2 separate regions of the Homo sapiens genome follow, and region 1 is linked to region 2. A link means that fine-mapping ties the variant in region 2 to the expression of a gene that starts in the linked region. Tissue or cell type: whole blood. Region 2 holds a variant in brackets; the other region holds the start of a gene. All regions are shown on one strand. Distances are between the middles of the regions.

Region 1 (4,000 bases), 35 kb after region 2:
GTTCGAGACCAGCCTGGGCAACACAGCAAGACTCTGTCTCCACAAAAATATTAAAAATTAAAAAAAAAAGAAATTGTCATGTTTGTAGACTTCCCAAATTTGCCATCCTAGGCAAACAGTGCTCTTGTTTTTAAACAAATAGTTGTATACATAATTTTCCCCCTCACTATTCAAAACATGTCATAAATGGTAAGTCCAAGAAAAATACAGGTATTCCCCCCCAAAGAAAACTGTAAAATCGACTTTTTTCTATCTGTACTGTTTTTTATTGGTTTTTAAATTGGTTTTCCAAGTGAGTAAATCAGAATCTATCTGTAATGGATTTTAAATTTAGTGTTTCTCTGTGATGTAGTAAACAAGAAACTAGAGGCAAAAATAGCCCTGTCCCTTGCTAAACTTCTAAGGCACTTTTCTAGTACAACTCAACACTAACATTTCAGGCCTTTAGTGCCTTATATGAGTTTTTAAAAGGGGGAAAAGGGAGGGAGCAAGAGTGTCTTAACTCATACATTTAGGCATAACAATTATTCTCATATTTTAGTTATTGAGAGGGCTGGTAGAAAAACTAGGTAAATAATATTAATAATTATAGCGCTTATTAAACACTACAGAACACTTACTATGTACCAGGCATTGTGGGAGGCTCTCTCTTGTGCATTATCTCATTTCATTAGGTCCATGGAGAGTATTGCATTTTCTTAGTTTAGGCATGGCCTCCACAATAAAGATTATCAAAAGCCTAAAAATATGTAAAAGAAACCTAGAAGTTATTTGTTGTGCTCCTTGGGGAAGCTAGGCAAATCCTTTCAACTGAAAACCATGGTGACTTCCAAGATCTCTGCCCCTCCCCATCGCCATGGTCCACTTCCTCTTCTCACTGTTCCTCTTAGAAAAGATCTGTGGACTCCACCACCACGAAATGGCGGCACCTTATTTATGGTCACTTTAGAGGGTAGGTTTTCTTAATGGGTCTGCCTGTCATGTTTAACGTCCTTGGCTGGGTCCAAGGCAGATGCAGTCCAAACTCTCACTAAAATTGCCGAGCCCTTTGTCTTCCAGTGTCTAAAATATTAATGTCAATGGAATCAGGCCAGAGTTTGAATTCTAGTCTCTTAGCCTTTGTTTCCCCTGTCCATAAAATGAATGGGGGTAATTCTTTCCTCCTACAGTTTATTTATATATTCACTAATTCATTCATTCATCCATCCATTCGTTCATTCGGTTTACTGAGTACCTACTATGTGCCAGCCCCTGTTCTAGGGTGGAAACTAAGAGAATGATGTACCTAGAGGGCGCTGGAAGCTCTAAAGCCCTAGCAGTTACTGCTTTTACTATTAGTGGTCGTTTTTTTCTCCCCCCCGCCCCCCGACAAATCAACAGAACAAAGAAAATTACCTAAACAGCAAGGACATAGGGAGGAACTTCTTGGCACAGAACTTTCCAAACACTTTTTCCTGAAGGGATACAAGAAGCAAGAAAGGTACTCTTTCACTAGGACCTTCTCTGAGCTGTCCTCAGGATGCTTTTGGGACTATTTTTCTTACCCAGAGAATGGAGAAACCCTGCAGGGAATTCCCAAGCTGTAGTTATAAACAGAAGTTCTCCTTCTGCTAGGTAGCATTCAAAGATCTTAATCTTCTGGGTTTCCGTTTTCTCGAATGAAAAATGCAGGTCCGAGCAGTTAACTGGCTGGGGCACCATTAGCAAGTCACTTAGCATCTCTGGGGCCAGTCTGCAAAGCGAGGGGGCAGCCTTAATGTGCCTCCAGCCTGAAGTCCTAGAATGAGCGCCCGGTGTCCCAAGCTGGGGCGCGCACCCCAGATCGGAGGGCGCCGATGTACAGACAGCAAACTCACCCAGTCTAGTGCATGCCTTCTTAAACATCACGAGACTCTAAGAAAAGGAAACTGAAAACGGGAAAGTCCCTCTCTCTAACCTGGCACTGCGTCGCTGGCTTGGAGACAGGTGACGGTCCCTGCGGGCCTTGTCCTGATTGGCTGGGCACGCGTTTAATATAAGTGGAGGCGTCGCGCTGGCGGGCATTCCTGAAGCTGACAGCATTCGGGCCGAGATGTCTCGCTCCGTGGCCTTAGCTGTGCTCGCGCTACTCTCTCTTTCTGGCCTGGAGGCTATCCAGCGTGAGTCTCTCCTACCCTCCCGCTCTGGTCCTTCCTCTCCCGCTCTGCACCCTCTGTGGCCCTCGCTGTGCTCTCTCGCTCCGTGACTTCCCTTCTCCAAGTTCTCCTTGGTGGCCCGCCGTGGGGCTAGTCCAGGGCTGGATCTCGGGGAAGCGGCGGGGTGGCCTGGGAGTGGGGAAGGGGGTGCGCACCCGGGACGCGCGCTACTTGCCCCTTTCGGCGGGGAGCAGGGGAGACCTTTGGCCTACGGCGACGGGAGGGTCGGGACAAAGTTTAGGGCGTCGATAAGCGTCAGAGCGCCGAGGTTGGGGGAGGGTTTCTCTTCCGCTCTTTCGCGGGGCCTCTGGCTCCCCCAGCGCAGCTGGAGTGGGGGACGGGTAGGCTCGTCCCAAAGGCGCGGCGCTGAGGTTTGTGAACGCGTGGAGGGGCGCTTGGGGTCTGGGGGAGGCGTCGCCCGGGTAAGCCTGTCTGCTGCGGCTCTGCTTCCCTTAGACTGGAGAGCTGTGGACTTCGTCTAGGCGCCCGCTAAGTTCGCATGTCCTAGCACCTCTGGGTCTATGTGGGGCCACACCGTGGGGAGGAAACAGCACGCGACGTTTGTAGAATGCTTGGCTGTGATACAAAGCGGTTTCGAATAATTAACTTATTTGTTCCCATCACATGTCACTTTTAAAAAATTATAAGAACTACCCGTTATTGACATCTTTCTGTGTGCCAAGGACTTTATGTGCTTTGCGTCATTTAATTTTGAAAACAGTTATCTTCCGCCATAGATAACTACTATGGTTATCTTCTGCCTCTCACAGATGAAGAAACTAAGGCACCGAGATTTTAAGAAACTTAATTACACAGGGGATAAATGGCAGCAATCGAGATTGAAGTCAAGCCTAACCAGGGCTTTTGCGGGAGCGCATGCCTTTTGGCTGTAATTCGTGCATTTTTTTTTAAGAAAAACGCCTGCCTTCTGCGTGAGATTCTCCAGAGCAAACTGGGCGGCATGGGCCCTGTGGTCTTTTCGTACAGAGGGCTTCCTCTTTGGCTCTTTGCCTGGTTGTTTCCAAGATGTACTGTGCCTCTTACTTTCGGTTTTGAAAACATGAGGGGGTTGGGCGTGGTAGCTTACGCCTGTAATCCCAGCACTTAGGGAGGCCGAGGCGGGAGGATGGCTTGAGGTCCGTAGTTGAGACCAGCCTGGCCAACATGGTGAAGCCTGGTCTCTACAAAAAATAATAACAAAAATTAGCCGGGTGTGGTGGCTCGTGCCTGTGGTCCCAGCTGCTCCGGTGGCTGAGGCGGGAGGATCTCTTGAGCTTAGGCTTTTGAGCTATCATGGCGCCAGTGCACTCCAGCGTGGGCAACAGAGCGAGACCCTGTCTCTCAAAAAAGAAAAAAAAAAAAAAAGAAAGAGAAAAGAAAAGAAAGAAAGAAGTGAAGGTTTGTCAGTCAGGGGAGCTGTAAAACCATTAATAAAGATAATCCAAGATGGTTACCAAGACTGTTGAGGACGCCAGAGATCTTGAGCACTTTCTAAGTACCTGGCAATACACTAAGCGCGCTCACCTTTTCCTCTGGCAAAACATGATCGAAAGCAGAATGTTTTGATCATGAGAAAATTGCATTTAATTTGAATACAATTTATTTACAACATAAAGGATAATGTATATATCACCACCATTACTGGTATTTGCTGGTTATGTTAGATGTCATTTTAAAAAATAACAATCTGATATTTAAAAAAAAATCTTATTTTGAAAATTTCCAAAGTAATACATGCCATGCATAGACCATTTCTGGAAGATACCACAAGAAACATGTAATGATGATTGCCTCTGAAGGTCTATTTTCCTCCTCTGACCTGTGTG
Region 2 (4,349 bases):
AGAAAATGCAAGGAGGCAAGTGACATTCCCAGCATACCAGGGGCCTTGACTCCAGGGGAGCTAAGCAGAGCTCTCTGGAACAGGAGGGAGGAAAAACCAGGCTCAAATGGGCCCCTGTAGTGTCTTCTGCATTCACCTGTGTTTTTGAGGTGGTGGGAGGAAGCAGCAAGACCAGGTGTTCCAACATCCAGGGCAGTGGCAGCTTGGCCCTCCCTCAGATTCAAAGTCAGCTGGGCCAGGATCCCTCTCCCTCTCCTGGGAGGAATAAGACTAGTGCAGTGGTCCTCCCTTATTCATGAGACATATATGTTCCGAGACCCCCAAGGGATGCCTAGAACTGGATAGTACTAAACCCTGTGTATAGTGCTTTTTTCTTATATATACATGCCTATGATAGTTTATATATATATTTAAAAAAAATTTTTTTTAGAGTCAGGGTCTTGCTCTGTCACCCAGGCTGGAGTGCAGTGGCACCATCATAGCTCACTGCAGGCTCAAACTCCTGAGCTCAAGCCATCCTCCTGCCTCAGACTTCTAAGTAGCTGAGACTACAGGCATGTGCTACCATATCTGGCTAATTTTTGAAAATTTTTTTTCTTTTTTTTTGTAGCGACAGGGTCTTGCTTTGTTGCCCAGGCTGGTGTGGAAGTCCTGGCCTCTAGCAACCCTCCCAAAGTGCTGGGATTACAGACATAAGCCACTGCCCCTGGCCAGTTTAATTTAAGAATTAGACACAATAAGAAATGAACAATAAAAATAGAACAGTTATAACAATATACTGTAATAAAAGTTATGTGAATGTGGTCTCTCTTAAAATACCTTATTGTACTATACTTGCCTATTTTCAGACTATAGTTGACCAAGGGTAACTGAAATGGCAGAAAGTGAAACCATGGACTACTGTACCTTAGTAGTAGGTTGAAGGAAGTTCTGAAATCACCTCATATCTACATAGGAGTCCTTGTCCTTCTCCACTAGTTATGGGATCCAGGGGAATAAATACCAGGAATGGACTACTGAGACAGAGGGGCCCAGGATCAGGCAAACGTGACTCACCTTTAACGCTAGTAGCAGGGCCACCGCCTGTGGGCGATGCACAGCTCTGCTAGGACCTGGTTTTAAGGCGAGAACAGCATCAGAAATGAAGTGGGAGACAGGAGAAAGAGGGAAGGAGAGAGTCCCTAACTCAAGTTCAAGGCTTAAAAAGAAAGTGTTAATCCAGAACTTGTCTTAGAAAAGGGTAGAAAAGAGAAGAGGAATGTTTAGTGACAGCCTGTGAGCCACAGACAGTTCAGGACAACCCTCTCCCATTCCCTTCTGCCATGGTACCTGGGTGTTGTGGACAGCACCAAGTACAGCTGGATCCCCAAGATCATTCTCTTCCTCCTCTAGGTCTGGGTCCAGATCTGGGTCCAGATCCTCCTCGTCCTCCTCCTCTTCCTCCTCCTCCCCTTCATTCTCTTCTTCTTTTTCCAACTGGCAGGCAGACACCAGCTCCTCCTCAGAAGCCAAGGGGCCACAGGTCTTACCTGGCCCTTGGTTTAAGTGTGGGCCAGAGGAGAAGGTAAGATGGGGCTCAGCTGTGAGTCTTGTCTAGAGAGGCTGCTACTCAATAGCACTTCTGTTCATAAGCCATCTCCAGCACCACCTTTGAACATAACGCCTCCTGTTCTGTGGGTTTAACTCGGCCTCCCTTCTCCCAAGGTGCCCCGAACCATCCCCCAGTAAGTCAAATGGAACCTGAGCCAGGTGTGGTGGCTCGTGCCTGTAGTCCCAGTTACTTGGGAGGCCAAGGCGGGAAGATCATTTGGGCCCAGGAGTTTGAGATCAGCCTGGGCAACACAGTGAGACCCTGTCTCTAAGTAAAAAATTTAAAAAGCAAACAAAAGGAACCCGGCAGATACCAAACACCTTCACTTTCACATCCCCTCTTCAATTCCTTCATTAAGTTCTAGCACAGCCTTTTCCATCTGCTCTGCCCCACCCAACGCCCTTTCTATTGCCTCTTTGAACAAGTTCCACCTGCCCTGACTCACTGCAATTTAACCCTACTGTGTGCCATATACTTTACGTGCATATGTTCATTTAACAGTAATATGAGGCTGTCCTGGGTTGTTGTTGATAATTTTACTAGGTTGGTGAGAAAAATAAAGCCCAGAAGAGTGACCTTTCAGTCACCCATTATGATATAATTAGCAAGTGGAAGAATTTGGAATAACTTCCAGTGACTCTGGACATCCAATCCCATATGTGAAACAGACCAGCAACCTCTGCATGCTGGGGCATTTTATATAACATCACGGCCCACTTGTTGATACCTTCAAGGCAATTCATCTTGGCAGGCTGGTGGACTTCCTTCTTAGCCGTGTCCTCCAGTGAAACAGCATTGCCAGCCTCTGGAAGGTAAACCTGAGACA[A/C]GAAAGAGGCCAAGAGGCACCATCCTCAGTCAGTAAGGATGACATGGCACCCTAAAACAGCCATGGAATCCTCCCAGCAAGATGGTTAGAGAATTCTTGGCCATGGTCTTGAGGAGAGAGACCCTGGGGTCTCAGACTGCCATAAACACCCACCCTCCCAGCTCGGCTCTAGGGAGCTGTCCCACAAAGGGACAGAAATGAGGCACAGGCTAGAAGCAGGAAGAGAAGTACTTCCCAACCGACATCACCAGTCACCGTCCGAGTGTGGTGATGCCTTGCTGCCGACACCCACCACCTGACTGTTGCTGTCCTTTCTGTTTAAGTTATTCATAGCAGCCTGGGCCAGGACCTGTTTGCCGCTCCTGGCTTTAAAAGTCCCAGCTCCTCCCCTGCTCACCCATTAAAGGGCTAGCATCCTCCATCCATTGGGGCCTGATGGAAATATGAGAACATAGTTTAATGATTAAAAAAACGCTTGAATGGAGAAAAGACATAAACTGCATTTTTAGCCATCCATGGCTTTTAGTACAGTTTATTGGGATTGATATTTGGGGGCAGATAGTTAAAAAGAGGATCCCTGTTTTCCACACCCTTCATTGGTAGTTTGTGAGGTTGCATTTAATTTAATCCCTAGGTTTTGCTTCAACAAAATTGGATAGGAAAGTCCTGGGTAGATCCTGGGGAGGATGCCTAGCAACCACATTCCTGGCGCTTCAGGGCAGCGTACTTGAAGCCCTCAAGTCCACCTGATGATGCTTGCCCTTCACCGGGTCATGTGAGCTTAAGTCAGCTACTCAGCTCTGACTGATGAGAGACCCCTGTGAATTTGGAAGTCAGATCTTCATGGTAAAAACACTTTTGCATGAGATACACAGTCTTACATCTTCTTGGCTGCTCTAATGGCAAACTGGTCCAGAAGCTCAGGAGTAAAAACAAATCAACAACAACAAAAACAAAAACATAGCTGCTCCTGGTAGGCAAAACCCAACACCCTCCCAAGTCTCATCTAACCCTCAAGCAACCCTGGGTTCTGTGCCCACATCCTGTGTTCAGCTGAAACCCACATGACTTTGTAGAACTTCTGAATAAGAATAAAAACTAAGTTAATTTCCCTACATCAAAAATGAAAGTTAGGACCCTCTTGTCATGGTGATAAGACCATGATTCTTGGTGCCTTTAAAGGAAAATATTTGTTTCAGAAGTTTTACTGCAGGTCATAACTATATGGGTGGGGGAACAAATATAAGTAGCTTGAAAGTTACTGAAAAACTTCTCATATATCTTGAGATAGCATCTTACTCTGTCACCCAGGCTTGAGTGCAGTGGCATGATCTTGGCCCACTGCAGCCTCCACCTCCCGGGTTCAAGATTCTCCTGCCTCAGCCTCCCGAGTAGCTGGGATTACAGGCGGCCACCACCATGCCCAGCTAATTTTTGTATATATATATATTTTTTTTCAGTAGAAACAGGGTTTCGCCATGTTGGCCAGGCTTGTCTCAAACTCCTGACCTCAAGTAATCCACCTGCCTTGGCCTCCCAAAGGGCTGGGATTACAAGCACAAGCCACCACACCCAGCTGGGTTCTGGCCTTTTTGGTAATGTTATTCAGCTGTTTCTCTCAGGAACTTCCTAATAACGTACTTTAGCACTATTAACAAAAGGACCACATGGTGAATTTCAGTGTTCCAGAGGTGATTCATTAGGTTGTTGTAGAGACTAGATCTTAAGGAGAAACTTGTTGCATGAAGATTTTCATTCTGAAGGGACTTCTGGTACTGACTAGTACCAAAGCAGGTGGACTAGGGCTCAGTCTTAAAGATCACAGCCCTGCCCTGGCTGTTTGGAGTTTCACTTGGGACCTACTGTTTTTTATGAAGGTCCCCTACCCTTATCTGAAGTCTCATATGTCTACTGATCCCCTAGATGTTCTAA

Evidence for each region. PIP is the estimated chance that this variant, and not a neighbour inherited with it, causes the effect.
Region 1: it holds the start of PATL2, and the variant in region 2 is fine-mapped to the expression of PATL2 in whole blood (TOPMed, PIP 0.94).

Annotation. Positions count from the first base shown.
Region 1 is chr15:44,709,476-44,713,475 of GRCh38, forward strand. PATL2 (PAT1 homolog 2) reads right to left here and starts at 1,848. Exons shown (of 18, transcript NM_001387263.1): 1 at 1,545-1,848; 2 at 1,396-1,454; 3 at 621-739. B2M (beta-2-microglobulin) reads left to right here and starts at 2,042. Exons shown (of 4, transcript NM_004048.4): 1 at 2,042-2,138. The coding sequence starts at 2,072. RefSeq lists an enhancer at 1,863-2,525.
Region 2 is chr15:44,674,157-44,678,505 of GRCh38, forward strand. It overlaps PATL2 (PAT1 homolog 2), which reads right to left. Exons shown (of 18, transcript NM_001387263.1): 4 at 2,319-2,409; 5 at 1,330-1,535; 6 at 1-74. The coding sequence starts at 2,334. Among named protein-coding and RNA genes, the nearest start is that of SPG11, 13 kb to the left of the region's middle. RefSeq lists an enhancer at 1,514-1,563. The variant A/C (reference allele first, on the strand shown) is at 2,418.